Linked DNA regions of Homo sapiens. The protein of the gene in region 1 purifies or fractionates together with the protein of each later gene. This does not show direct contact. Each region holds a gene or a part of one and is shown in the gene's direction. Other genes may lie near its edges.

What was found.
Region 2: the proteins of KCND3 (region 1) and SCN1B purify together in Homo sapiens (affinity purification with western blotting, with the first as the bait; one study listed by BioGRID). This does not show direct contact.
Region 3: the proteins of KCND3 (region 1) and NAP1L1 purify together in Homo sapiens (affinity purification with western blotting, with the first as the bait; one study listed by BioGRID). This does not show direct contact.
Region 4: the proteins of KCND3 (region 1) and RAPGEF5 purify together in Homo sapiens (affinity purification with western blotting, with the first as the bait; one study listed by BioGRID). This does not show direct contact.
Region 5: the proteins of KCND3 (region 1) and RCN2 purify together in Homo sapiens (affinity purification with western blotting, with the first as the bait; one study listed by BioGRID). This does not show direct contact.
Region 6: the proteins of KCND3 (region 1) and CNBP purify together in Homo sapiens (affinity purification with western blotting, with the first as the bait; one study listed by BioGRID). This does not show direct contact.
Region 7: the proteins of KCND3 (region 1) and LBR purify together in Homo sapiens (affinity purification with western blotting, with the first as the bait; one study listed by BioGRID). This does not show direct contact.

What each region holds. Positions count from the first base shown.
Region 1 is NC_000001.11:111,979,669-111,983,168, reverse strand, and holds part of KCND3 (A-type voltage-gated potassium channel KCND3), read left to right. Parts: intron 1-370; 5' UTR 371-442; coding exon 443-1,548; intron 1,549-3,500. UniProt on the Homo sapiens protein: Pore-forming (alpha) subunit of voltage-gated A-type potassium channels that mediates transmembrane potassium transport in excitable membranes, in brain and heart. In cardiomyocytes, may generate the transient outward potassium current I(To).
Region 2 is NC_000019.10:35,033,470-35,036,969, forward strand, and holds part of SCN1B (sodium channel regulatory subunit beta-1 isoform a precursor), read left to right. Parts: intron 1-29; coding exon 30-270; coding exon of another isoform or gene 271-629; exon of another isoform or gene 630-3,500. UniProt on the Homo sapiens protein: Regulatory subunit of multiple voltage-gated sodium (Nav) channels directly mediating the depolarization of excitable membranes.
Region 3 is NC_000012.12:76,050,186-76,053,685, reverse strand, and holds part of NAP1L1 (nucleosome assembly protein 1-like 1), read left to right. Parts: intron 1-335; coding exon 336-481; intron 482-575; coding exon 576-595; intron 596-3,032; coding exon 3,033-3,155; intron 3,156-3,500. UniProt on the Homo sapiens protein: Histone chaperone that plays a role in the nuclear import of H2A-H2B and nucleosome assembly.
Region 4 is NC_000007.14:22,120,446-22,123,154, reverse strand, and holds part of RAPGEF5 (rap guanine nucleotide exchange factor 5), read left to right. Parts: intron 1-633; coding exon 634-749; 3' UTR 750-2,709. UniProt on the Homo sapiens protein: Guanine nucleotide exchange factor (GEF) for RAP1A, RAP2A and MRAS/M-Ras-GTP. Its association with MRAS inhibits Rap1 activation.
Region 5 is NC_000015.10:76,945,249-76,948,748, forward strand, and holds part of RCN2 (reticulocalbin-2 isoform a precursor), read left to right. Parts: intron 1-2,172; coding exon 2,173-2,269; intron 2,270-3,161; coding exon 3,162-3,304; intron 3,305-3,500.
Region 6 is NC_000003.12:129,170,612-129,173,896, reverse strand, and holds part of CNBP (CCHC-type zinc finger nucleic acid binding protein), read left to right. Parts: intron 1-2,125; 5' UTR 2,126-2,139; coding exon 2,140-2,263; intron 2,264-2,358; coding exon 2,359-2,451; intron 2,452-2,613; coding exon of another isoform or gene 2,614-2,619; coding exon 2,620-2,818; intron 2,819-3,285. UniProt on the Homo sapiens protein: Single-stranded DNA-binding protein that preferentially binds to the sterol regulatory element (SRE) sequence 5'-GTGCGGTG-3', and thereby mediates transcriptional repression. Has a role as transactivator of the Myc promoter.
Region 7 is NC_000001.11:225,401,002-225,404,038, reverse strand, and holds the end of LBR (delta(14)-sterol reductase LBR), read left to right. Parts: intron 1-575; coding exon 576-736; 3' UTR 737-2,537; downstream 2,538-3,037. UniProt on the Homo sapiens protein: Catalyzes the reduction of the C14-unsaturated bond of lanosterol, as part of the metabolic pathway leading to cholesterol biosynthesis.

The sequences.
Region 1 (3,500 bases):
CTCTCCCAATTTAAATTGGTAATAACGCCATAACCTTTCAGAGCTGATTATTACCCACGTCTTGCCAGATCTTCCTGCTAAAGAGGCCTTCCCTCCAAATGCTCTTGAGCCCTCTTGGAGCTTGACGATTTGTCAGGCAGTCAGCAACATCTGGCGATCCCACCCTGCCGAGCTCCAGGAGCTAGGTGTTCTCCCAGTGTCTGGATGGCAAAGAATCAAGTCCCCTCTCTGTGGTGGGGATTTCAGTTTTATTAATCTGCCCTGGAGACTTTGGCCGTTTCACTCACCAGTGATCCTTTCCTGTGTCCCATTTCTTACCTGCCAGTCGATATGGACTCACCGCTTCTCTCTCTCCCCTCCTGTCTCCCAGGGTTTGCTGAACTAACTCCAAGCTGGTGTGCCTAGCGTCCGCGCGGCTGCCGGCCCAAGAGCTGGAGTCACCATGGCGGCCGGAGTTGCGGCCTGGCTGCCTTTTGCCCGGGCTGCGGCCATCGGGTGGATGCCGGTGGCCAACTGCCCCATGCCCCTGGCCCCGGCCGACAAGAACAAGCGGCAGGATGAGCTGATTGTCCTCAACGTGAGTGGGCGGAGGTTCCAGACCTGGAGGACCACGCTGGAGCGCTACCCGGACACCCTGCTGGGCAGCACGGAGAAGGAGTTCTTCTTCAACGAGGACACCAAGGAGTACTTCTTCGACCGGGACCCCGAGGTGTTCCGCTGCGTGCTCAACTTCTACCGCACGGGGAAGCTGCACTACCCGCGCTACGAGTGCATCTCTGCCTACGACGACGAGCTGGCCTTCTACGGCATCCTCCCGGAGATCATCGGGGACTGCTGCTACGAGGAGTACAAGGACCGCAAGAGGGAGAACGCCGAGCGGCTCATGGACGACAACGACTCGGAGAACAACCAGGAGTCCATGCCCTCGCTCAGCTTCCGCCAGACCATGTGGCGGGCCTTCGAGAACCCCCACACCAGCACGCTGGCCCTGGTCTTCTACTACGTGACTGGCTTCTTCATCGCTGTCTCGGTCATCACCAACGTGGTGGAGACGGTGCCGTGCGGCACGGTCCCGGGCAGCAAGGAGCTGCCGTGCGGGGAGCGCTACTCGGTGGCCTTCTTCTGCCTGGACACGGCGTGCGTCATGATCTTCACCGTGGAGTACCTCCTGCGGCTCTTCGCGGCTCCCAGCCGCTACCGCTTCATCCGCAGCGTCATGAGCATCATCGACGTGGTGGCCATCATGCCCTACTACATCGGTCTGGTCATGACCAACAACGAGGACGTGTCCGGCGCCTTCGTCACGCTCCGGGTCTTCCGCGTCTTCAGGATCTTCAAGTTTTCCCGCCACTCCCAGGGCCTGCGGATCCTGGGCTACACACTGAAGAGCTGTGCCTCCGAACTGGGCTTTCTTCTCTTCTCCCTCACCATGGCCATCATCATCTTTGCCACTGTGATGTTTTATGCCGAGAAGGGCTCCTCGGCCAGCAAGTTCACAAGCATCCCTGCCTCGTTTTGGTACACCATTGTCACCATGACCACACTGGGGTAAGTCAGCGCTGGTGGATGAAACCAGGACGGAGGTTGGAGGGCAGCTGGATGACCTCTGAAACCTTGGATGGTGTCACCATGGGTAGAGGAGGAGGGAGTCCCTTACCCAAGTGTTGGGGGCAGGGGAAGTTGCTCTATCCGAAGGGTAAAGCCCATGAGTCATCTGTTTGGGGGTGGTAGCTTGCTGGGAATTGAGTTTTCTTTTTGAGGTCGGGGCATGTGTTTTATAGAGCTAAGAAAATTAAGTCACCAATTCTTTTTTCAGCCATGCCTTGTGTGCGTGTGAAGTCTCGGGGTGAGGTGATGTCTGCATTTGTATATGCATTTGCGCATATGGGGCAGCGTGGGGAGAAGGTCAGGGCAGTTGTTGGGGAGGGAGGAGACTGTTGAGAAGTTCGGAGGGTTCAGATGTCCATTACCAGAAGACACCAAGAGCACTCTTTTTGGATCCTTTCTGCATTTTTTCTTTGTAGTATATTTTGCAGGCCATTTTCCCATTTGTTATGCTTTTCTCCTGTGCTGCCACAGACACTCAAGCGTTCAGTAGCTCTGAGCAGACTTTCTCTAAGTGACTCTGAACCTGGATTTTTCGCAGTAAGGCACGTGGTTTATTCTTTCTTTCTAAAGCAGTATCAGTCTTGCTTTTTAGTCTGAGTCAGTGATTGAATGACCTGGGTGACTGTGAGATGGTCTGAATGGATCATGTGGTCAGACACAGAAGCAGCAATATCATCAGAAGGAGGGACAGGTGCTCGGTGAGGTCATGGTAATTCCGTCTCTCCGAGGTCTCCTCTCCAGCTGAGGTCACAGAAATGTATTCATGATGCTGGGATGTGAAGCTTTCCATCAGAGGAAGGGGGCTCAGGAAGGAGATTACAGTCTTCACCCTAGCAGGATTATAGCCAATAAAGGTGGCTTTATGGAAACATAGATTTCTTAGGGGTTTCTGCCTCAGCTATTAGAAACCATGGAGCCTAATGCAAAATCCCTCCACAATTCATATACTGGGTCTATATTTGCTTAGGCTAGGAAGCGTTATATTGCTGATGGAGAATTCATGAAGCTTTTTATTTTGTCTTTGACAGTGTGGTTGGTGGTGTCCTGGTGATTTGATTTTTTTTTTTCCTGGCCAAAACCCAGAGGCAATAGTGTTGGTTTTTCCATAGTGCTGCGTATGCTTATTGGGAATGACTGAGCAGGTGACGAGACCTTTTAAAATGATTACATTTGTCATTCTGCCACACACAAGAGGGAGGGAGTAGCAAGGGGAAGAGCAAGGGTGTCACCATCCATTTGTGAAGGCCACATTTGATTGGGGCATTCCCTTTACTTCTTATCTGTCTGACAGAACCACCCTGCCCCTTCCTCCCACTCCAACCCACACACACACACACACACACACACACACACACACTCTTCAAATGGCTGCTCACCCAGAGTGGGTAAGAATGTTTGGTCATTTGACCTTGTTTCTCTTGGCTCAGGTGGCAGATGTGGGCTTTTTGGCACAGTGGGGTATTTTGGAGATAAAATGGACTGGAGAGCTTGTGCTGTCAAGAGGTCGTCTTTATCCCTTTTAGGCTGACCCTAGCCATCCCTTCACCTTCCTGAAGGGGACCTCACCCATGGCCAGACACCTCACTTCCACTTCTAGTCAAGCTCCTGATGTGGCTCTGACTGCCCAGTGCCCTCAGATGCCCCTTGATGGGACTCATGACATCAGAGAGATCCTTCAGGATAGCCATGTGGAGGAAAACAGGCATGGTGATAGCCACCTACTCATTACTTTTTATTAGTAGTATAACAGCATATGATTGTCTACTATATGTCAGCAGTGTACTAAGAACTTTGCATATATTATCTCTTTAAGTTTTTACAACAGCCCTGCAAGGTTGGAAAAAATTCTGTACCCTATAAAGATGCAGAAGCTGAGGCTCAGAGAGACTATA
Region 2 (3,500 bases), on another chromosome or scaffold:
GACACCTTCCCCTCCCTGGCTACCCCTAGATCCTGCGCTATGAGAATGAGGTGTTGCAGCTGGAGGAGGATGAGCGCTTCGAGGGCCGCGTGGTGTGGAATGGCAGCCGGGGCACCAAAGACCTGCAGGATCTGTCTATCTTCATCACCAATGTCACCTACAACCACTCGGGCGACTACGAGTGCCACGTCTACCGCCTGCTCTTCTTCGAAAACTACGAGCACAACACCAGCGTCGTCAAGAAGATCCACATTGAGGTAGTGGACAAAGGTGAGTCGGGTGCTGCCTGCCCCTTTACCGTCACCCACCGGAGAGCCAGATGGAGGGACAGATGGCAGGCAGTGGACAGGACAGGCTGGCTCTGTGCCTGGCCAGCCAACCGCCCACAGCAGCGGGCTGAGGGGGAGGGGAGCAGCCCCTCCTGCCCACTCCAGCTCTGGCCTCTGTTTCTCTCCAGCCCACGGAGAGGTCAAAGCATGCCTGTCCCCCACAGACGCTCCGGGTACAGAACCCAGCTCTGTCACCTGTGCTGTATGACCTCTGGCAGGTGCCTTCTGTCTCTGAGCCAAAGGGTTGTCCTGGGCTTGCCCGGGATAATAATCCGATGTGTTTCTCGGGGTGTGGTTTGAGCCATTCTTCCATCATGGGGTTCATGAGGATTGAGCAGCTGCAGGCACACGCCTGGCTTCCAGCAGAGCCTTGCAGGTGGTGGCGAGGGTGGCGGTTCTTACTGTTCGAGTAGCTCAGCCCTGCTGCCCTCTGTGGTGATGAGGCAAGAGAGCGTGCCACCTAGAGCAGAGTTCCGCACACCCCTCTGCACTCCTGCCCCGGGGGAGCCGCGCTGGCCTGCAGTCTCACTCAACACCTCTGGGGCGGGCCTAGGGGTCCTTTCTAAAGCTCTCAGGTGAGGCAGTGAAGGGCCACAGGTGCGGGGCCCACCCTCTGAGCAGCAAGGGCCTACAGCGCTTTTGAACGTCTCATCATTTTGCCTCAGCCACCCTGGACCCCTTTTCTGAGGGAGGTCCGCCCCTTCTCTGATCCATCTTCTGCTCAGCATCAATTGCAATTGTCCAGCGCCCTGTGGCCACTGGCTTAGAGTTGGGGAAACAGCCCAGGCCTTGAAGCAGCTACAAGCCGTGGCAGAAAGGTCTCTCAGGGCCACGGCACACACATCCTCATGGGCAACACGCACTGCCCATCTTTTCTGTGAGATGGGTGCCGGCCTCAGTGCCTTACACGGAGTCCCTTAGTGAATCCTCTCCCCACCCTCTGGGGTAGGGGCTCTTCCTATCCCCATTTTACGGATGAGAAAACCAAGGCTCAGGGAGGGAAGGTTATGTGGCCAAGGTCATGTGATTGGGAGCTGGACTTGAATCCAGAGGAGCTTGGGTGACTGTGTTTCTGTTCTTGGCATGATTCACTGTACTCTGTGATCAGCCAGAGCCTGTGGGTTTCTTTTTATAATTAGCATTTTTACGTTTATTGTCAAATTGGTGTAGCAGAATGCAATTCAGCAGGCATGTCTGAGCCACTCTGGTGTTTGTCACGATGCTGGGGGGTGGGGGTCACCCGCAGACATGGATGATGGAGCCCCGCCTGCGGAGTTGCTGTGACAAAGATGCCTGCGGTACTGGGACTTTACAAAACCTGTGTTATTGCTCTTGCAAATCTGCAGAGGTGAGATGGGGAGAGGGTGGGAGGCTCCAGGGCACTGTTCAGCCACCCAGGTTCTTTCCATCTTGTTGTTTGGCAGTTGGCCAGGGTGTTGTGTCCTCTGTACGCCGTGACCCAATAGAGCCTCTTTTTTTTTTTTTTTAAATTTAGATTTTTATTTTTTGAGACGGAGTTTTGCTATTATTGCCCAGGCTGGAGTGCAATGGCGTGATCTCGGCCCACTGCAACCTCTGCCTCCCAGGTTCAAGTGATTCTCCTGCTTCAGCCTCCCGAGTAGCTGGGATTACAGGCATGTGCCACCAAGCCCAGCTAATTTTTGTATTTTTAGTAGATATGGAGTTTCCCCACATTGGCCAGGCTGGTCTCGAACTCCTGACCTTAGGTAATGATCCACCTGCCTTGGCCTCCCAAGGTGCTGGGATTACAGGTGTGAGCCACTGCGCCTGGCCTGAGCCTCTCTTTTTTAGGATTGCCCACTGTATGACACTACATCCCACAGCCTGTGCTATTACCAGCATTTACCATCATATGCAGTTCCTTATGTTGGCCCTGCAGAGTTTGTGTTTTCTGCACTATCCACCCAGTTCTAGTGTTTTTTACCCACCATATGTAGTATTGCCTTTTAAACATTACCCACTATATTATAGTATTTTATATTACCCACTATAGGATATTTTATATTACACAATATATTTTACTATCATAATATTGCCAAACACAACAGTTTTTTGTTTTTTGTTAAAGAGACCAAGTCTTGCTCTGTTGCCCAGGCTGGGATACTGTGGCGTGATCATAGCCCACTGCAGCCTCGAACTCCCGAAATCCAGCGATCCTTCTGCTTGAGCCTCCCACGTAGCTGGGACTACAGGTGTGAGCCACTACGCCCGGCAATTTTTTTTTTTTTTGTAGAGACTGGATCTTGCTATGTTGCCCAGGATGGTCTTGAACTCCTGGCCTCAAATAATCTTCCCTCCTTAGCCGCCGTAAGTGCCGAGATTACAGGAGAGAGCCTCCGCGCCTGGCCTACAGTATTTTTATTATAATCCATCATACTAGCGTATTTTTAACGTTCCCCACCATGGCGGGTATTTTTATTACCCACCATGCTATGCTATAGTATTTCAAAAATTAATCCTATTGTAGCATGTAAAAATATTCCATTCTATACCATACTATATTCATCATTACCTCTGATACTACAGTATTTTTAACATGACTCATTGTGCTATTGTATTTTTTCATTACCCACAATACCACAATATTACTGTATTTGTTAGCACTGCCTGCCATTCCTTATTATTATTATTTTTGCAATGGAGTCTCGCTCTGTCACCCAGGCAGGCTGGAGTGCAGCAGTACAATGTCGGCTCACTGCACCTCCCGGGCTCAAGCGATTCTTCTGCCTCAGCCTCCCAAGTAGGTGGGATTACAGGTGCACGCCACCATGCCCAACTAATTTTTGTACTTGTAGTACAGACGGGGTTTTACCATGTTGGCCAGGCTGGTCTCGAACTCCTGACCTCAGGTGATCCACCCACCTCAGCCTCCCAAAGTGCTGTGATTACAGGCGTAAGTTACCATGCCCAGCCTATTATTATTATTATTATTATTATTATTATTATTTCAAGTTAGAGTCTCACTCTGTCACCCAGGCTGGAGTGCAGTGGCACGATCTTGGCTCACTGCAGCCTCCATCCACCTCCCGGGTTCAAGCGATTCTCCTGCCTCAGCCTCCGAAGTAGCTGGGATTACAGGCACGCGCCACCACGCCCGGCTAATTCTTTTGTATTTTTAGTAGAGACAGGGTTTCGCTATGTAGACCAGGC
Region 3 (3,500 bases), on another chromosome or scaffold:
TATGTACATAGTCTGTCTCTGAACATTTTGGTAATATGTTTTCTGAAAAGTGCTTATCAAGTTTCCTGTAATTCTCCTTGGACCCATGACTGTCTCACATATATTTTTGCAGAGGAATGCTTCTTTAAATTATACTATGTGTTTGTGCTAATTGTAAATGTGTTTATTTTAAATATTTGCTTAGAAATAAAATTTTTCCCTTTATACTGCTATAGAAAACATTTGAAGCAATTCACCCTTCTAAAATTTGAAATCTAAATAGAACATTTACTTCTAAAAGTTTAGCAGTTGAAAGATTGTCAATTGTAATAGATTTTTCTTCTTTGTTTTGCAAGGTGCCAGATAGATTGGAAAAAAGGAAAGAATGTCACTTTGAAAACTATTAAGAAGAAGCAGAAACACAAGGGACGTGGGACAGTTCGTACTGTGACTAAAACAGTTTCCAATGACTCTTTCTTTAACTTTTTTGCCCCTCCTGAAGGTAAATAATGTTTTAGCTTGAGTATTAACGGTTGTTTTATAAAAAGCATTGCTTAGCTTCTTATTCATTGTAATTTCTTTTCTCAATTTTGCAGTTCCTGAGAGTGGAGATCTGGTAAGTTGAATTGTTATATATTTATTGAATTGTTAAGTATATTTGAAATTAAAGCACTGAATTTCAAAAATGGAGAGTGGGATGGTTGTTACATTGAGTTCTGAGGCCTACAATGCATGGGGCAGACTTTTTGGATATGAAAAATAATTCCATTCAAAATTATATCAGTGCTTCTGCTGAGAAACACTGAGATAAAAAGCTTAAGGTTTTCTTTTCTTTTGAAACTTCACATATTGCTGTGAGGGATTTAACTTTTCAAAACTGTTGTCTTCCTTAGTAAAACCAGAATATATTAAGTCACTTATACTGTTACATTCCTAACTACATTATGGTTCAAATTCATTCCTGAATTTGTTACTCCAATGTAAATATGGTTTCATATTGTGACTAAGTATGTTCACATATATGGCATATGGCAAAGAACATGAAATGTTCCTGCCATATAGACTGAACTGAGGAACAACCTTAAAGAAAGTCTATACACACAAGGTAGGGCAGGTATGTTTTGAATTTGGTTTTCTTTTGGGCATGTTTTTGAATTTAAATTAACTGAGATAGTTTAAATAGTTTGTACATATATGGAATTAGAAATTAACCTAAACTGAATACTTTTGAATTGGAATACTCTTGGCTAAGACTTAGAACAAATTTGTAAAAGGCAAAAGTAAGTATTTCTGGCTTGGCTTATAGGACAAAAAAAGAGAACATAAAGCAGTGTGAATTTCAGGTGAGAAAAACTACTTTAAGTATTAAGATAGAGCATCACACTATTTTCATATCAGTGGATGGGTTGGAGTTTGTGTTCAAGTTTGGGGTTTTTTTTTGTTTGTTTGTTTGTTTGTTACTAAATATTGATGATGACAAAACAGTCTAGTTAAGGATAGAAAACCTCCACCTGTGGTTTGAATTCCTCCCCACCCCCTTTTGGATTTTTCTATTTATTAGATTATGTTGTTGACTCAAACATTCATGGAATTCACAGAGGGTGTGCTCATTGTTTAGTATCATAGAACTTGTATCATTGTTTAGTATCATAGAAGTGGGATTATTTTATTTTATTATTATTATTTTTTTTTTGAGATGAAGTATTGCTCTGTCATCCAGGCTGGAGTGCAGTGGTGCGATCTCCACTCACCACAACCTCTGCCTCCCGGGTTCAAGCAATTCTCCTGCCTCAGCCTCCCGAGTAGCTGGGATTACAGGCACGTGCCATTGAACTCGCTAATTTTTGTATTTTTAGTAGAGACGGGGTTTCACCATGTTGGCCAGGCTGGTCTTGAACTCCTGACCTCAGGTAATCTGCCTGCCTTGGCCTCCCAAAGTCCTGGGATTACAGGCATGAGCCAGGCCAAAGTGGGATTATTTTAATTGTGAATAATGTCAGACCCACTTTTGCCCTGTGCTTTTCTATTAAATAGAAATCCTAAGCCAGGTACAGCTTCAGGCACCTGTAGTCCCAGCTGCTCTGGTGGCGGAGGTGGAAGGATCACTTGAGGCCAGCCTGGGCAACATAGCGAGACCCTGTCTCTAAAAAAGAAAAGTGCTAGGGGCACCTGATTTAGTTAGTATATTGTCTTTCTGAACTAGGACTGTCTCATTTGGGATTAGTAGACTTAAAACTGTACAGCTGTTTGGGTACTGTCTTTTAGGAACTATAAAGTGATCCTCTGTGGTTGTTTATTATGTCCTTCTATTTGCTATGTACTTAACAATATTAACAATAACTATATATTAACAATAACCCAAGGGTTTTTTTTTTTATTTTTCTATTTGGTGTTTTCAATAATATTTTAAAAGGAAAATTGCGGACATGTAACAGTTGCTTTTATGTATTTATGTTTAAACCAGCAAAAACTAAGCAGTTCTAATTTTTATTCTTCACAATTTATCTTAGTATGCATACTGGCCTGCTAGCTTATTTTCTTTTTGTTAAAAACTTGGAAAAGTTATTAAGGAAATTTAAAAATGACAAATCATTTGTTAACATGGTGTGAGAAAAATCATGGAAAGTAAAAAGTAAAGTTGAGCATTTCTTCCCTTCATCATATAATTTAAACTGAAGAGTCTGTCTTTTTTTTTTTTTTTTTTCGGTTGCCCAGGCTAGAGTACACTGGTGTGATCACAGCTCATTTCAGCCTCAAGCTGCTGGGCTCCAGCAATCTTCCCACCTCAGCCTCTCAAGTAGCTGAGACTACAGGCGTGTGCCACCCTGCCCAGTTAATTGTTTATTTTTTGTACAAACGCAGGGGGCGTCTCACTATGTTGCTTAGGTTGCTCTTGAACTTCTGGGCTCAAGTGATCCTCCTACTTTGGCCTCCTGAAGTGTTGGGACTACAGTTGTGAGCCATCACACCCAGCCTCTAAGAGTCTTACATGTGCCAAATTAAGTAACACAGTTATTCCTAAATTTTCTGCTTTTGTTTTCCTTTAAAAATAGGATGATGATGCTGAAGCTATCCTTGCTGCAGACTTCGAAATTGGTCACTTTTTACGTGAGCGTATAATCCCAAGATCAGTGTTATATTTTACTGGAGAAGCTATTGAAGATGATGATGATGATGTAAGCGAATTTGAATCCTGCAAAGAAATAATTGGTTGAGGGTATAGTGGTCAGAATTGGTAATAGATTAGTTTAGTTTTTAAGAAGCAGGACATAATATAATTCAAAATTAGGCTAATTACTGATGTTCTGTATATAGCTTTTCTGGGTTTTAAGTATGTCTCCTTAGGATTTTTGGATTCATTTATCTTAGCTTTTAATTTTCTGCTAATAAGATTGTTCTGAGTTTATGAAACTTTTTTATGTTTGGTTAGTGCTATAGATCTATTATGCCCTTGCCTTGACTTCACAGAGCTAGGACTTTCTTTAGTGCACAAGAAAACATTTACTGGGAGGCATAGAATT
Region 4 (2,709 bases), on another chromosome or scaffold:
AGACTTTAGTCCATACACATACTTTCTGAAGCTATTTCGTCTGTTAACCACATCTTAGAGTCTGTTCTGTTGTATCTGTTCATTCAGTTGCTCCATTAAATTTTTTTTTCCAAAAAATGAGAATACCAAAGAATTGTACAAAATCTAAACAACAGAAAAAGAGTGATTGCATTCATATGCTAAATACATTATCAGCGATTTTCAACGCTTCTAGACTGAGATATAGGACCCAGTGCTGGCCATTTAAACAGGTAACTGCTGTGAAAGGCTACCTAAAAGGGCTCAGGAACCATCTGTCCTGGGTCCGAATCCTGGCTGTGACAGTTAACTTGCTGCGTGACTGTGCTCAGTTTCCCCATCTGTGGAATGAGATAATAACGTAATTTCTAAATAATATACAATGTTAGGTAATAAATGCTATAAGTATCCTGCCAGTCTGATTGCCTGACCTGAGGAATCCATTCTGAGCTGAAAAAGCATTTCTACTGTAGGACAAGGACACCTCTTATGGGATTCTGACTAATGAGAACCCACCTAGTACATTTACTCAGCCTTAGTGTGGGGTTTTGTTGGTATGTAGATACAGCATTACTGCTCTCCTGAGATTGTCTTTTTTCCCCCTCTAAACAACAGGTGACCTGTCTCCAAAAGAGCATCAAGAGTTAAAGTCCTATGTTAATCACCTGTATGTCATTGACAGCCAGCAGGCTCTGTTTGAGCTCTCACACAGGATCGAGCCTCGGGTGTGAGCCCCACTGCCTCACCTCCCCTGTATCTGCAGCACTTTGAGCTACGGGAATGTCTATGCCAAGCACGTTGCTTTCCTGTGAGAAAAGAAGTTGCTGAGTTTTATCAGTATAACCCAAGACATTCACAGGAAAGCCAGCCAAAGCGTGTTCAGGAAGTGATGTCAGCCACCAGAGAGGGGGAGAGGTTTCTCCATGCTACTCTCGGGACAAGAAGGCAGAAGGAGAGTCAGAAGCATTCTTGAGATGGAGAAGGCTGGTTTCTTATGATCACATTGTTGATCCAGTCCAGTTTTCAATATGAGATGTGCCAGCATCAAGACAAGACAACGTCTTGACATGCAATGACCAAATATTTCATTAAGAGCGTGCATGAAACAGGAAGGAGTTTTTACTTTGCCTAGTTTTAGATTACTGTCCATAAGCTGTCAAAGAAGTCATTCTTTTGAACACCTGATGACAGAGACAGCATCTCTAGATCTCCAGGGAGGAGAGGTTTCTGTTGATACAACCTGTGACATCACCAAAAGCCACTTGTGTCTAGGGAGTTAGTGAGGACTGCAGCTAGCATCCATGCTCTGATGGGCAGATGAACAATGTCAAGGTGTGCATCACTTTGCACCACAATCAACTATTGACACATGCTTGCAGGTGAAATTAGTTTCTGTACAACTGATTTGCAGCTATAGGCAAGGTAGATGAAGTTGCTTTGCCAGTAAGGAAAAATAGTAATCTTTAAGAAATTGACTCATTGTTTAATTTCTGGGGATTTTCTTTATACTTCTAAGCAGGCTCTTATCTTTTATTGGACATAATATGATTTTGAAAAAGCACAGTGCCTGACACATTGCAAACACTCACCAACTGCTTGCTGAGGTGACAGAGTCACAAAAGTCTGCATTCTTGTGCCTGATGATGCATTTTGCGTACCTCATACAGGCTCCTTGCCCACACTATGGAATGACAGCAGCCAGTGCAGGGAGGTTAAGTGACATTTAATGAGTGAAGCACTTAGCACTCTCTAGGTAATAAGATAGTGGTAATTACTAGTGTTTTGGCAAATGAAAAATGCCCTGAAATAGCCAAATGTCTGATTAATGTTGGCAACTTAGAAGTCCTATAATCCAACTACCAGCCAAAGCAGGGAGCCTTTCTATAATTTGCCTTTTTTTTTTTTTTTTTCAAAATCTGAGTCTTCTAAAATCTTATTATTCCCATTTTTACCAATTGAGGCTCCTGTAGCAAATAAGACCTCTTGATATTTTCAAGGACTGGTTAGAGGATTTCTTTCAACCTTCACATGAACAAAACAGCCTATGGGTCAAAATAATGAAATCCACCCCTGCCTGCTAGATACTTGTCACCTTGCTAAAATGCAAGGGCCTGGTCCATTCATTTTCCAAATGCAGGAGTCTTGGTGCACTTCTCACTCTTCCTGCCTGTTCATCTCTTTCATGCCCACACAGACCTGTTTCCTTTTTGTCTCATCAACGCCTCATTCATCCTCATTACTGAGGCGTGTCCAATGCTTTTTGACATCTTTATAGCAGTGCTGTTTCCTGGGCTCAGGAACCACACTGAGCTTGAGATACTGCTGGAAGGAACCATGTGGAGAGAAGGTTTGGGAGAACTTTGAGAGAGACTTAGTTTGGCCCAGCATGTAAAACTTCAGTCCTGAACATTTATAGGGTTTTATAGAAGGGCATCCTCCAGGGCTGGTCCATTCAGAGAAATGCTGCATGCTGCCGTCATGGAATGTGGCCCACAGGACACCAGAGCCGTGAGAACCGGAGAGCAGACTTCCCTCACGGCTGGGCTGAGCAAACCCTCCAAAGCCCTCCTCACGCAGTTACTAACAATAGCATGGGCTTACAGCACAAGCACGTGTTCTCACCTTTTTCCTATGCCCTGGACTAAGGTTTGGCCAGTGTAATCATATAAGGCCATCCTGACATTGTTTCTG
Region 5 (3,500 bases), on another chromosome or scaffold:
CCTTCCTTATCCTTTTGTAGCTTTCAGATTTTTTTTGGTTTTTCAATGTTAGTAATATTAGGATTTCTGTTTAATTTACAACATCACTTATGAAAGCTTTTGGTCTGGAAAAACATCATGTTTGGATTCTTCATAGGGTTGGTAGGGGTGCAGCTGCTAGTTAACTAGTAATGTTTTTGCAATTTTAAGTATAATGAGTCCTCTCATCCCTTTAATATTTAAAATAAGTACCAGTTTTTCAAAACTTTTGTTGAATTGTAAGTTTAACTCAACAAACATAAATTGAGTCCCTATTATGACTTGGCCAAGCTTGAAAGCATAAACCATCACACTGGGAAATAAAGACTAATGTAACAAATAGCTTTTTAAAAAAGAGACTAAACATTTATATTGAAGTCTGTTGCATGACATCAGCCTCCAGCTACGTGGCTTGGTTCCCTGGATATTTCAAAGAAGGAAGATATATCTTTTTGTTTAATGTGTCATGGTAGACCCTGCTGCCTTGCATAACAAGGCTGCAGATACATTTTTCTCCATAGCTCAGTGGTAAGACACTGTCATTAATACCACTTCTCTTGCCATTGTGAAGCTTCTAATTTCTCATTGGCACAGAATACATGACCCAGTTTAAGAACAGTGCTGGGTGTAATTTAAGTACCAAAATTAAGTTGGGAAAAGCTAATTGAGCCCAAGAATGACAGGCAAAGGATGCTAGATCTTGATTCTCTGGAGAATAAGGAACAATTGAAGACTAAAGAGGGGAATTACCAGTAAAAGCAATGAAATAATTTAGGCATAATGTGATACGGCCCAGAGTTCTATCTGGCAATTGAATGAAATAGATTTGAGCAACATTTTGAAGAAAGCATATGCAGGAATGTTGACTTACTAAATAAGTGTTAAGGGAAGGCAAGAGTCAGAGATGGGCCAGGCATGGTGGCTCACACCTGTAATCCCAGCACTTTGGGAGGCCAAGGCAGGAGGACAGCTTGAGGCTAGGAGTTCAAGACCAGCCTGGACAACATAGCAGACCTTGTCTCTACAAAAAAGTTAGCCAGGTGTGGTGGCATGCACCTGTGGTCCTAGCTACTTGGGAGACTGAGGTGAGAGGATCACTTGAGTCCAGTAGTTGGAGCCTATGATGCCACTATTATTGTGCCACTGCTCTCTAGCCTGGGTGACAGAATGAGATCCTATGTTAAAAAAAAAAAGAAGGGGGAGGGCTAGGCGGAGTGGCTTACGCCTGTAATCCCAGCACTTTGGGAGGCTGAGGCTGGCAGATCATCCGAGGTTAGGAGTTTGAGATCAGCCTTGCCAACATGGCAAAACACTGTCTCTACTAAAAATATAAAAGTTAGCTGGGTGTGGTGGCATACGCCTGTAGTCCCAGCTGCTTTGGAGGCTGAGGCAGGAGATTTGCTTGAACCCGGGAAGCAGAGGTTGTAGTGTGCTGAGATCATACCATTGTACTCTAGCCTGGGCTACAGAGCAAGACCCCATCTGAAAAAAAAAAGGAGATAGGAAGATATTGAGGAAAGTACTGAAACAGCTGGCCATTGAACAGGTCATCTTTAGGGAAAAGGATTGGTTGTTTGATAAGAAGCTTTGATAAGAGGGAGGAACAGATTTGGGGGCAGTTTGGGATGGATAGGGCTAGGTTTGCTGAAGGGGAAGCAAGGAGATTGAGGTATAATGGCGGGCTGGTACATTTTAGATCTGGAGGCAGAACAGCAGTTCTAAGGTAAGGGCTCTTTTAGGGTTGTTCATGGATTGGAGGGCAAATGAAGTTAAAGACAAAGGTAGTATAAGATGCTTTTCTTGAGAGGGAGAGATGTGCGGAAAATAGCATGAGAGTAACGCTGAGGTTGTTTATGAGAGTGAAAGTGGAGTTCTTCACAATATCAGAAGCTTAAGGATGTTGAATTTAAAGCTACATAGTACTTCAGGTTTTATTCTTGCTTCTAAATTCCAGTGTTTAGAAGGATTGTCTTGAAGATATGGACAACCAAAGTGATTTTTCCTGTATAAGTACCTTACTAGCTGATTGCACCACTAGAGCTCCAAAAATTATCATTTATTTCTAAAGAAGTTCTGTAGTAGAATTGAATCGGATGGCAGTGGGACTGAACATTTTGTAACTTTTTTTTTTCTTTTTTAATGAACGTGGAATAGGAATTTGTCATTCAAGAAGCTTTAGAAGAACATGACAAAAATGGTGATGGATTTGTTAGTTTGGAAGAATTTCTTGGTGATTACAGGTGGGATCCAAGTAAGTCACCTGGGAGAATGTGAAAAGAGAAAAGGAATTGAAGAAAGACATTGAAAGACAGCCTTGCTCATTGAAAGCTCTCTTCAACAGGAAATGTAATGAGGATCTGTGTCTGATCCTACTTGTTTCGTTAACTGTAATACAAGTTCAACAAATGGATTTATAGCTTATCTGAGAACGCTGTCTTGCTTACTTTTACTTCCGTGTCTAGAGTCAAACATTTTTCTTTCTTTTCAAACAAATCTAATTTTATTATCAGTTTAAATGGGGAAGGAAGTAAGGTAGATATTTTTAAACAAAATCCTGTGCTGTTGCAGGTGGATCTTAAAAGAGATAGAAACATAAAACACTACAAATACTGGTGTAAACACAGTATCAGAAGCTTAGTAGAAGGTGAATAAGTGTTTGAAATTAAGAGTTTGCTTTTATATAAGCAGCTGTTTTTTCAGAATTGTTGCTTAAAGACACCAAACAATGCCATTTTTAAATTGGTCACCAGTTTTACTTATTCTGATTGTCACTTTAAAATTACACATGGCATTACTTTGTGAAAACATGTAAGAAACTTTGTATAGAAACATGATATACAGTAAAACATTACCCACCTCACATCTGGGAAAACTAGATATCGGAACAAATAGCAGTTAACAAAATTACTAGTTTGTGAAAACATCCAATGATTTTAAAACTGGGTTGTTTAGACTCGTGTCACTTTTGAAAATGACTATATATTTGTTCTTATGTCAGGACTTTTCAGTTAAGTAGTTCTGTTTTATTGGGCTTTCTTTAGTAAACTTTAAATTCACTTCCTTTATTCTAGGGATATACCAAACTTCTTATTGGATACATGTGATATTCTTGTGTATGTATATTTGTGTTTTTTTATATTAAGCTGCAAATGAAGATCCAGAATGGATACTTGTTGAGAAAGACAGATTCGTGAATGATTATGACAAAGATAACGATGGCAGGCTTGATCCCCAAGAGCTGTTACCTTGGGTAGTACCTAATAATCAGGGCATTGCACAAGAGGAGGTAAGTGTTACAGAACAACTGTTTCTCTCCACCCCCTCCCCCCGAATTTGGTGCTGTTGATAGGAAAAGAAGTTCAAAATCTTAAGCCAAAGAAAGAAGTAATGGAGTTATTTGGGATTGATGCATTACTATGTTTTGAATTTACGAACTGTTTAGATTGTCAGGGAGACGAGGAAGTTAAGATTGTGTCATGTAT
Region 6 (3,285 bases), on another chromosome or scaffold:
GGGTCTTTGGCACTGTGGTTAGGTTAGCTAATTCGATTATCCACTCAAGTTTTACTCAGTTGGAAATATGTTTTTCTAGATGATGGTGCCTGTGCTTAGGTTTGAGAGGATATTTAAAATACGACTTTGTGTGCCATTGTTTGACAGTGGAATTAAGGGTAAAAATATTTAGATATGGAAGTGTGAAAATGTAGTTGCATTGTTTTCATTATGTTCTATTCCATTTCATTCTATTTTAAGAATAGCCTCAATTTATTTTTAGATTGTTACATAAGTACAAAATCCATTTGCTTTAGTGGGAGTTTTATTTTTATTTTAAAATGATAACCAATTAAAGGAGTTTATTATGAAATTCTAAGTAGCATTGTTTAAAATGTAAAATTACATTACAGAAACATTTGGAAAGGGGAGAATAAAAGAAAACAAAACACAAATGTTGCCAGTGCTGTAGGTGCTATTATTAGCGCTTTGGTGTAACTCATGGTCGTTTTCCTACTATTTTTATTATACAGTCATCTCTTGGTATCTGTGAAGTGGTTCCACAAACTCCCTCAAATACCAAAATCCTCCTATGCTCAAGTTCCCAATATAAAATAGTGTAGTACTTGCATTACAACCTTTGCACATCTTCCCATATACTTTAAAATCATCTTTAGATTACTTATAATACCTAACACAATGTAAATGCTGAATAAGTAGTTGTTAACATTGTATTGTTTAGGGAATAATGGCAAGAAAAGTCTGCATGTTCAATACAGATGCAACTTTTCCACTGAATATTTTTATTCCAAGGTTGGTTGAAGCCATGGATGCAGAACCCATGGATATAGAGGGCCTACTGTACTTGTACCATCTAGAGATAAGATTTGTATCTTGCATTTGTTTTAACATATCTGTTCTAAGGAATATCTCAGTCACCAGGCAAGTGCTGCAGTATAACTAGGTACTACGTCAGGTGCTAAGGTTAAGAGAGTATTTTCCTTCACTGACTCCTCACTCCGAGAATCCATTTTACAGCTTCATTGGTTTGGGTTATTCCAATTTTTTGATGTGAGTAAATAAATGACTTCTATTTGCCCAAAATAAAGCTTATATAGGCCTTATAACCATGCAAATGTGTCCATTAAGTTGGACTTGGAATGAGTGAATGAGTATTACTGCCAGTGTGTGTGTGTGTGTGTGTGTGTGTGTGTGTGTGTGTCTGTCTGTCTGTCTGTCTGTCTGTCTGTCTGTCTGTCTGCCTGCCTGCCTGCCTGCCTGCCTGCCTGCCTGGCTGCCTGTCTGCCTGTCTGCCTGCCTGCCTGCCTGCCTGCCTGCCTGTCTGTCTCACTTTGTCCCCTAGGCTGGAGTGCAGTGGTATGATCTCGGCTCACTGCAACCTCCACCCCCCGGGTTCAAGCGATTCTTCTGCCTCAGCCTCCTGAGTAGCTGGGATTACAGGCGCATGCCGCCATGCCCGGCTGTTTTTTGTATTTTTAGTAGAGACGGGGTTTCGCCATGTTGGCCAGACTGGTCTCAAACTCCTGACCTCAGATGGTCCACCCGCTTCAGCCTCCCAAAGTGCTAGGATTACAGGCATGAGCCACCGTGCCCAGCCACTACCAATTATTTCTCTTAATGGATTTTCATTGACCCTAACCCTGTAAATTCCATCACTTTTATCAAGGTGTATATTATAATAAGTCTATAATACCCAATCATGTAGTTGTGTGATTATTTTATTTTTTTGAGACAGAGTCTCAATGTTGCCCAGGCTGGAGTACAGTGGCACCATCTCAGCTCACTGTAAGCTCCGCCTCCTGGGTTCACACCATTCTCCTGCCTCAGCCTCCCAAGTAGCTGGGATTACAGGCGCCTGCCACTTCACCGGGCTAATTTTTTGTATTTTTCGTAGAGACGGGGTTTCACCATGTTAGCCAAGATGGTCTCGATCTCATGATCCACCCACCTCGGCCTCCCAAAGTGATGGGATTACTGGCGTGAGCCACCATGCCCAGCTATTTTTTTAACCAATATATTAGCTAGCTTTTTTCCCCAGAATAATTTTCCAAAAATACATTTAATAGAGAATAAAAGTTAAAAGAACTTTCAGTGGTTTAATGCTGTTACTTTTAATATTTCAAAGATCTGACTGCAGCCATGAGCAGCAATGAGTGCTTCAAGTGTGGACGATCTGGCCACTGGGCCCGGGAATGTCCTACTGGTGGAGGCCGTGGTCGTGGAATGAGAAGCCGTGGCAGAGGTGGTTTTACCTCGGATAGAGGTATTTTGTCGAATAGAAAAATTTGAAGTACTTCAGTATTTGTTAGTATCAAGACTGGTCTGACTAGCCGAATTCTTTGTTTTTGCTCAAAACAGGTTTCCAGTTTGTTTCCTCGTCTCTTCCAGACATTTGTTATCGCTGTGGTGAGTCTGGTCATCTTGCCAAGGATTGTGATCTTCAGGAGGATGGTAAGTATTTAACACTTCCTTTTCATACCCCTCTAGAGCTTGGAGAGGTGAGCACATGCAACTGTGTATAGCATTTCCACCTTTGAGGTTTTGTATTGTATAATTTAAAACGTAACACTTTGTAAAGGTTTTATAGTCTTGGCCTGTTTCTTTTCCTTATTGTTGAAGCCTGCTATAACTGCGGTAGAGGTGGCCACATTGCCAAGGACTGCAAGGAGCCCAAGAGAGAGCGAGAGCAATGCTGCTACAACTGTGGCAAACCAGGCCATCTGGCTCGTGACTGCGACCATGCAGATGAGCAGAAATGCTATTCTTGTGGAGAATTCGGACACATTCAAAAAGACTGCACCAAAGTGAAGTGCTATAGGTAAGGTGTCAGAATGTTGTTAGAAGAAAACTCATTGCAGAGATTCTTCCAGAGATGAATTAGCTATAAATGGAAGGGCCTTAGTAAATTCAGTGAAACTTAGCTGTGACCAGATAAGACCAATTTTCAGCATATGTAACTGGCAGTCTATCTGTATATAATTCTGTATTCTGCCCTGATATCCTGTGGCTTATGGTACCTGGGCAGTTTTCACAACTGGACTTTTTTAATATATAAAAGTAAGAGTGTTATAATTTGAAACTTCCAGAGACTTCATAGAAAGCTCTGTAATATACATAAATCTTTTATCATGTAACCAGAAATCTTTGCCTGTTTGTGACATGTAAGTGTATAATTTGATAAATGTTGTTGTGTACATATCTGTGAAACCTTAGGGGTTAATTGCATGAAAACAAAGATCAGGCGTTTTGTTCTGCATGGTGACTGTTGCTTTGGTAGACAGTTTT
Region 7 (3,037 bases), about 110 Mb from region 1:
TCTGGCCTCGTGGGGAGCTGGGAAAGCAGGGGAGCAGGGAGAGCTGTGGGAGCTGGAGGTGCTTGGGGAGCTGGGGTGTCAGGGGGAGCTGGAGGTACTGGTGGAGCCAGGGGAGCTGGGGGAACTGGGGGAGCAGGGGGATCTTGGGAAGCTGGGGGAGCTGGGGGAACTGGGGGAGCAGGGGGATCCAGGGGAGCTGGTGGAGGTGGAGGAGCTGGCCCGTGCCTGCTGCCTGTTTGGTGGCCCAGCCTGTGGTGGAAGACAGCAGTTTTTCTTCTTTGCTGGGGGAAGAAGGGCGAGAAATGAAGAGATGTGTATTAACTATGAGGACAGATGTTTTGATTGTGATGGATTGTTAGAATGGATTCATCAGTCTTTGAGTAGCTTCTAATTTAGATACGACCTTCTGCCACTTTCCAGTGGGATTTTACAGACTTGTTTAATTATTCTCATCATTATTAGAGAAAATGAAGTACCTTGTGGTTCCATTTTTAGAGAATTTGGGGGAAAGCAGGAAAAAATACATTGTAGTGATAATAAAAATATCTAATACTGTGTACTATTATTATCCACAGGTTTTAACCACATTCTGCCTTATTTCTACATAATTTATTTCACCATGTTGCTTGTCCACCGAGAAGCTCGTGACGAGTACCACTGTAAGAAGAAATACGGCGTGGCTTGGGAAAAGTACTGTCAGCGTGTGCCCTACCGTATATTTCCATACATCTACTAATGCTCTTCTGGCTTTTCTACAAAATACTCCTGCAATTCCAGCTGCCATTTGCAAAAACAAGGAAAAAAATCCGAAACTTTCTTTTGTTGCACTGACAGGGTCTGTACTTTTTTTTTTCTTTTTGAGTCAGGACTATGGAGCCGAGTAGTTGATCTTTTAATATAGCCGTGTTTACTTGTATTAACTTACAGTTAACATAGGAAAAATACAAGTAAGGATGTGAGAATTTGCATTTTAATGGGAAATTTTCAACCCTTAATCTGAAAACAGAAGACAGTCTTAATATAAATGTACTGTGAAGAATGCTATTGATGTTTATGGTTTCTGATTACTTTTCAAATTTTGATGTTTTTTTGCCAGTTGGCTTTTCTTAAATGAAAACACTGTTCCATTTAAAGTACATTTATGTTTTATTCAGTAAGAGAATAGAATTTTCATTTGTTTTTCTTTAAATCCTTTACTAATTATATAATTTGAAAGCAAAAAGAAGGGCCTATATTAAATGCTGAAAGTGAAAAGTGATGACATTATTAGCAGACACTGCTTAAAGGAGACCATTTGTAGCAGTTGGCTTAACCTCAACTTCTAAAACTACATTGAAAATGTAAATACATAGCTTAGTTTTTTGTAATATATGGTGACTTCAGATTTTTTTGTACAGTATTTTGAATGTGAGATGATTGTCAGGACTAACTGTCTTTTTAACAAAACATTTTCAGTATTTTAAATAAAATTTTGTAAAGTAATGTGAATTAAAAATTTTGGAACAATTAGAATTCATTCACTATTGTATAGAAGATGCTGTTAAAACATAGGAAGGGTATTTTTCTTGATCCAAAGTTTGTGAATTTGGCTTTGCTACCTCAATTGCAGGTGTTTGTTTGCCTTTATAAACTGTTGCAAATAGAAAAAAAATAGAATAAGTATATATTTTTGGAGTAACATCAATATTTAAACATTTTTACACAGATCGGTGTTTGAAAATTTGCCATTTCAGGCTAATATTTTTATATATTTTTGACTTTTTAAAAGTTCATCAGTGTTTTTGCTACTGTTAAGCTTATGCAGTTTATACTGTATTTTTTATGTATCCTTTATATTTACCAAACCTGACTCCCTGTAAAGGAGTGCTGTCTTAAAAACAACTGAAGGGGTTAAAGTCGTTTCTTTTAGTTTAATAGATGTGCATAAGGTAGCTTTAGCAATTAAATTCTAGTGAAGTTGATATAGTCTCATTTTTAATTGTCCTGTAATGGAACAGTAGCAAATTCACTAAACTTTTGTGTTCAGAGTTAAATTGTTCTCAGTACTTTCAATGTAGGGGAATGTAATAAACATAGTGTGTATGTTTGGGTTTTAATTACACATTTTATATATGAGCCATTTAGATATGCAGTGTTAATTCTATACTGCATTTGAAGTGTATGTAACTTAGCTTATGTTAATGCAGTCATGAAGTTGGTTTGCTCCAGCATCCGGTAGTCTTTAAACATTCTTTTAGTGAAATTGTCATTGTTTTATCAGTGCTAATGTGTGCAAGCAGTTTTTTTATTTTGCTTTTCTCCTGGCATCAGAAAGTGGTGGCGTTTTCTGTACTGGATTGCACCAAGGAAGCTTTTGGGGAGGAAGGAAGGACATTAAATTCTTTCCCTGGTAATGAAAAGAGCCCTTTATCAATACAGTGCTGCAATTTCTGGATATCAGCTACACTTTGTTTTTAAGTTTGTTTTTGACATGTTTATTTGGCAAATTTTATAATGAAGTTTTAAGTTGAAAATAAAATGTAGCAACATTTTGATCACTTTGGAGCCTTTTTTTTTTCCCTTTCTTGCTTGAAACTGAGATTTTTGGGACCAAGACAGGAGCCCTTAGATTCCCACCCCTGCCCAGCCTCCTGTTTTCCTAGGATCATCTGTTTGGGACCCCTGGCCAACTGCTGTTTAAAACTCTCAGAATGTTGGAACTCAAAGGGGTTAGTTGGGAATCCTAACTCCCAGAAAATGGTCATGTGTTTAGTATTTGCTGTTTGAGAAAATACAGAAATGCTAAAACTATTGTAGATCCAGTCATACTTTCAAATGCATTTGTATGAATCACAGAAGCATCTGTGCATTTGAAAGACAGTACGTGTGTGAGAGACACACGAGACACACACATGTACTGTGCCTGCTGACCGTGCTTTAGTGCTTGTTTGGATTTCCAGTTGACTCTAAGCCTGAATTGTGAGATGAGATCAGACAGCTTCACCTCTCAATTCTTCCTGCTGCGACGTTACATTGTGACATTACATTGCAAAATGTG